2 separate regions of the Homo sapiens genome follow, and region 1 is linked to region 2. The links come from fine-mapping of genetic effects on gene expression. A gene starts in region 2. The other region holds a variant in brackets. All regions are shown on one strand. Distances are between the middles of the regions.

What was found.
Region 1: its variant is fine-mapped to the expression of MAX in whole blood (TOPMed, PIP above 0.99).

Annotation. Positions count from the first base shown.
Region 1 is chr14:65,077,585-65,080,494 of GRCh38, forward strand. It overlaps MAX (MYC associated factor X), which reads right to left. Exons shown (of 5, transcript NM_002382.5): 4 at 329-452. Among named protein-coding and RNA genes, the nearest start is that of MAX-AS1, 11 kb to the right of the region's middle. RefSeq lists an enhancer at 1-794. The variant A/G (reference allele first, on the strand shown) is at 1,638.
Region 2 is chr14:65,100,960-65,103,869 of GRCh38, forward strand. It overlaps MAX (MYC associated factor X), which reads right to left and starts at 1,558. Exons shown (of 5, transcript NM_002382.5): 1 at 1,345-1,558; 2 at 587-613. The coding sequence starts at 1,380. RefSeq lists enhancers at 629-1,129, 1,823-1,972 and a silencer at 1,143-1,492.

The sequences.
Region 1 (2,910 bases), 23 kb before region 2:
CCTCAAAGCTCTTTTCAGACACCTGATGCCAGGTGTGATCCCTACTGCAGGCAGAGCACCTGAGCCCCAAGAAGGGGAGAGGTCAGGCCAGAAAAGATACAAGTCTCCAGATGTCCAACTTCCTAGCTTCCACTGTCTCCTCACTGGCGCCTCAGGTCCTTCCTCAGGACGGCTCTAACACTCAGTTACTCAGGCCCCAAGAAGCAGGACCAAGCCTGCTACTGAGCACATACTCCATGACTGGCTCTGACTCTGCAGGCCCAGGTGCCAAAGCCTGACCTGGCTGGAGCACAGCAGGGCCAGCTGCCCCACGAGCTCGGGTGCTCACCTTGCTGCTCCAGAAGAGCATTCTGCCGCTTGAGGTCGTCAATATCTTGCTGGTGTGTGTGGTTTTTCCTTCGCATATACTGGATATATTCTGTGGCTTTGTCTAGGATTTGGGCCCGGGATGCCTGTGGCAATATGAGAAAAAGCACAGGGGACAAAATAAAAACCCAATCCAGGCAGTGAGGGAACCTGGCCTGCAGCAACTGCTTGGGTGGCTGGAAACGAGAGGGTAAGGTGGGAAAAGGCTGAAGAAATACAATAATGGCTACTGTAGGCTTTATTTATTTATTTATTTTTTTATTTTTTTGAGACAGAGTTTCGCTCTTGTTGCCCAAGCTGGAGTGCAACAGCGTGATCTTGGCTGACAGCAACCTCCGCCTCCTGGGTTCAAGTGATTCTCCTGCCTCAGCCTCCTGAGTAGCTAGGATTATAGGTGTGCGCCACCACGCCCATCTAATTTTTTTGTATTTTTAGTAGAAATGCGGTTTCACCATGTTAGCCAGGCTGGTCTCAAACTCCTGGCCTCAGGTGATCTGCCCACCTTGGCCTCCCAAAATGCTGGGATTATAGGTCACAGGTGTGAGCCACTGCGCCCAGCCTGTTGTTGTTGTTGTTGTTGTTGTTTTTTTTTTTTTGGAGACGTAGTCTCGCTCTGTTGCCCAGGCTGGAGTAGAGTGGTGTGATCTCAGCTCACTGCAACCTCCACCTCCCAGGTTCAAGTGATTCTTCTGCCTCAGCCTCCAGAGTAGCTGGGATTACAAGTACATGCCACGTTGCCTGGCTAATTTTTACATTTTTAATAAAGATGGGGTTTCACCATGTTGGCCAGACTGGTCTCAAACTCCTCACCTCAGGTGATCCACCTACCTCGGCCTCCCAAACTGCTGGGATTACAGGCGTGAGCCACTGCATCCGTGAAGGCCTTCTTTGTGACATACAAGGTGCCAAGTGCTTTACAGAGCTTAACTCACAAGATTAGTCTCAGAGGTAGCTCTACTAAGAACCCAAGGATCAGAGAAGTACACCGCTTTATTCAAAATCACCAGCTGCACAGTAGCATGGCCTGGCTTTAAACTCAGAGCCATCCGACTCCTGAACTGTACTCCTCCCATCTCCTCTGGTTCTTTAGGTTGCTTTAAAGTCTTTAGCTTGGCTATGTCTGGAAACATTAAAATACTACTTAAATGAAAGCTTTAGGTCACTAATTCTGCTAGGGCCTGGCTTGAGACAGGAATGGGTACAATGTGTTTCATCAAGACCCAAGATTCCAGCCAAACTCTGAAACCACTGTTAACTATTCCGAACTGAAC[A/G]ATGCTGCTGTGTCACTACTTCAGCCTTCCTGGCTAAAGAGACTTTCATAAAAAGCTGTCGGTGCTTGATGTCAACACAGGAAGAGCATGAGATTGGGCCATTTCAGGAAACAACCACACCTCTACAATGGCTGTGGGTTGCCTGGGTACTGCCTTGCTAGAGTAAGTTCGTAAGTCAATAACATGGATGTCATGTTACTGTGCCCCTAGACATCAAACTTGTCTGGGAGATTCTCTCCAGGCTACAAACATAGTCAGAGTTACTTATGGCCAGGCAGCCAGCCAAACTGGTAGAATAGTACAAAGCCAAGCGAAGCTCAAGGCGGGGTAGCCTAGTAGCTTAAGTATGGCCTTCCAGCCAGAGACTCCTGAGCAGCCGGAAAGCTTCTTACTCAGGGTAGGGAGTGCTTGACAATTCTGTATTACAAGCCCAATGGGTCCTAAACAACCAGAACACAACAGCGGGAGAAAGACAAAGAAAACATGTACACCGTGGCTAGCAAAACCAGATCTACTCATATTAAATCCTAACAATCTCAATTTATAGGCCTCAGTTTGGGCTGAGTTTCAGAAAGGTTTGTAAGGCCCGTGCTTATTCATAAGTCCTCACAAGTACTAGAATTTCCAGGCTTTCCTCTTTAGCACCCTTAAGGTAATTTCCTCAAGGAAATTGTTCATAATCAACCATTTTTATCAGGTGCAAATTACGTACAAGATACTAGGCAGATACTGTGGGGAAACAAAATGTATTAGTCATGGCTTCTTTGCCCCAAAGCTTACTTACTATCTAGTTGAGGAGATAAATATGTCTATACATGGAAATATCACAGGGCAGTGCTGACAAGCGTAACCTGACTAGCAGAGACTAGAGACACCACGGGAAAGATGGCTTCTGGCTGGGGTGATTACCTACTGTGTGCTACGCATTGGCCTTGGTGCTGCATGTGTGCATGCAACACGCTCCTATCTGAAATGGTGAGCCCTGTGTTAGACCAAGGTGGCGTTTGGAATAGCACAGTCAAGATGGGATGGGGAAAAAGTGAGATGCGTTTCTTTAGTTGAGTCAGTCAGCTTATGCAGAAGGAATGAGAGTTCCTAGCCTAGCAATGGATACTTCAGACACTGTTTCCCATTTCTACAAAGGGACCTTATTAGGGTTTATTAGGTGACAAAATGGGGTGGAAAAAAGGAGCACATAATTAGAAGGGACTAATTAAAATACCTTCCTCTCTGGATACTGGAGATGGAATGAAAAATGATTAGTATTGATAAG
Region 2 (2,910 bases):
TATACCTTTTCTTCAAATACAGAGAATCAGACCATAATAACTTTATGTGACACTTTGATGATGTAACGTTTGGCTCCTCTACATTTCCAATTTTTGCATTAGAATACCATGTTGTGCTAGATTCTACGGGTCTATAGCAGTCACATGACTTGGTTAAAGGCGATTACCGCATGTGGCTTCAGCTTCACACAATTATACAGATATGGTTTAAAACCTACTTGTTCCTAAATAAATCTTCTGACCACTTTGCCCTGAAATAATACTACCAGACCAGAATGCTGCATTTCTCATTTCCACTTACATAGTGGCATCTGGATCCCCTATCTGAAAACTACAGAACAATTCAATTCTTTGCATACAGCTCCTCTTACTCACCTAGAATCACTGAACTTATCACCTGAGAATCTAGAATAATGGGATTTGCAACCCCCCCACCCTCCAGAACCAGGCCCCACCTCACCTTAGTGGTTAACATTAGAGTTTACTACAATATTAAAAGTAATAGTACGATCTCTTTTTCTCTCTGACCCCAAAAAGGAATAGAACTGAACGGAAATAAAAATGAAATGGAGAGTAGGAGACGTACCGCAGATTGAAACCTCGGTTGCTCTTCCTGGAATAAGAGAGAAAAAAAAAAATAGAAAATATAGAAGTTATTTTTACACTTAACATTCAATAATAAGAAAGAAAATGCCGGCGGCAGAGGAAGCGGAGGGTGGGGAGTCAGCCCGACACCCCTTCCTCCCTCCCCACCCCTTGCCCCCACCCTTCCACCCTCGGCGGGATCCGGTAGCAGGGTAGAGGGGTCCCGAGCGCCGCCCCTCCTTCCGGGATCCGACCTGGGCCAGAGGGGTCCCGAGCACTGTCTCCTCCCTGCAGACCCAGCTCGGGCATCTAGGCACCCCCAACCCCTCTCCGCCCTTCCCCGGCCCCCAGGATCCGCGGGTCACGGGAGGAGAGGATCGCAGTCCGAAGGGGCAGGTCCTGAACGCCGTCCCCTTCCCCTGGATCCGGACAATGGGATCCCGGGCGCCCCCCATCCTTGTCCCCCGGATCCTGAGCCGGGGAAGGTGGGAGCGGGAGGCCGCAGCACCCTCCCGCAAGGGAGGAGGTGGGGGTCCCAGAAGCCGCGTGTCTTCCCCCAACCTCCAGTCCCAGGAGGCCGCTCCGGCCAGGAGCCGGAGGGGAGCGAACCGGGAACGCGACGGAGGCACTCCTGGCCCCGAGGGGAAGGGGAAGGAGGCGGCGGCAGCCCGGCCCCCTCCCGCCGTCGCCCCGCTAAGAGCCCCGGCCGCTGTCCCCGCCTGACAACCCGCACGGGAAGGAAGAAGCCCCAGGACTCACGTCGCTCTCCACCTCGATGTCATCGTTATCGCTCATTTCCTACGGCCCAGGGAGCGGCCACTGCAGCGGCGGCGGGGAGGGGAAGGGGTGAAGGGGAGGGGGAAGTCACCGACAACAACAAGCCGAGTCCCCCCCACACACACACTCACTCACTCACTCACTCGCTCTCTCACTCACACACACACACAACACGGGCAAGAACCACCTCCTCACTGCAGCACCGGATCAACGGCGGCACGCACGCCCGGTCGGCCCCCGCCACGTGACCAGGCTCGCAGCGCTGGGGCAGCCGAGACTTGTAGTTCTTGTCCCTCTAACAGACGGCCCGGGTAGCTCCAGAAAAACTACAAATCCCGGAAGAAACCGCATCCAGGCGACGCCAGCCCGGCTTGTTGACGGAGCCCAAGGCGCCTGCGCGTCCCGGGGAGGGGGGGGGGGGCGGGGGGGGGCGGGGAGAGCCGCGGCGCGGCGCCTCCTGGGAGTCGTAGTCCGCAGACCGCGAGTTGTCAGGAGATTTTCCTCCCGAGGCGGCAGAGGAGGCTGCTGGGAAGACAGGACACGTGGAGGGAGCTGGAACTCCTGGAGCCGGGCACCGTCTGCGCGCTGGACGCCGGGCCCAGGGGACTGGGTGGAGTCTCTGGGGGAGTAGCCGGCTGTCTAAATAATGCTGCCTCTCTTTGGTGTGACTGGTTATACTTTGTCTTCTTCATACGGAGTGGTTCCGTTTTGCGCCTAGGGGCGTAACCCGCCCGGGAGGGAATCTGGCTGCGGCGGACCAGGGGGCGCGGCTCGGGATGCCTGCGCGAACCCTCGGGGGCTGGTGGGGAGGTGTCAGTGGCAGGTGTTTCGTGGTGCTACCGGACAGGCAGAATGACCGACCTCGCCGGGCGACCGCTCCCAGCCGCGAGAATCCTGTATTCGTTTATCTGGGAGTGACCATCCTCGCTACTCAGCTACTCACGTGAGGCTCCAGCGTTCACACAACGCGAACCCTCAACCACTATGGACGTGGAAGTAAAAGCCCCTTCAGAGTTTGTTGTAGCCCAGACAGTTTAGGCAATATCCCAGCTCAGAGTACCATAATTAAGATTGCAAAAAGGATCAATATGGGAAACTTTTGCAGTTCCCTGTCCAGTTAAAATCATATTTATATACTGTGGCATGAAGTGTAATCACATGCATTCCACCGATATTTATTGAACACCTAACTTGCCACAAGGGGATGCCATAACGGATAAGACCAAAACCATCCCTGCCTTCATGCAGCTCACAGCTGTGCAAGCAAGCGTGCCGGTCCTGCCGCCATTGTAAGAGTGTGCAACAAGTCCCATGGGAAGGAAGAAAACCATAACAGACACTTTCCACCCTGAGACAAAGTACCCATACTACTCCTTTACATCTGGTCTCCAAAGTGAATGACATCTTGAGCTTTTCCCATGAGTTACTGATTCCCGGATGAATACCATATTATCCCTGACTTTTGAATGTGGAAATTTGGGGATATGTCACACACAATTCTTGTGACACACATTCCTCAACGTGAGCATGTCATCTATGCTGAAAAGA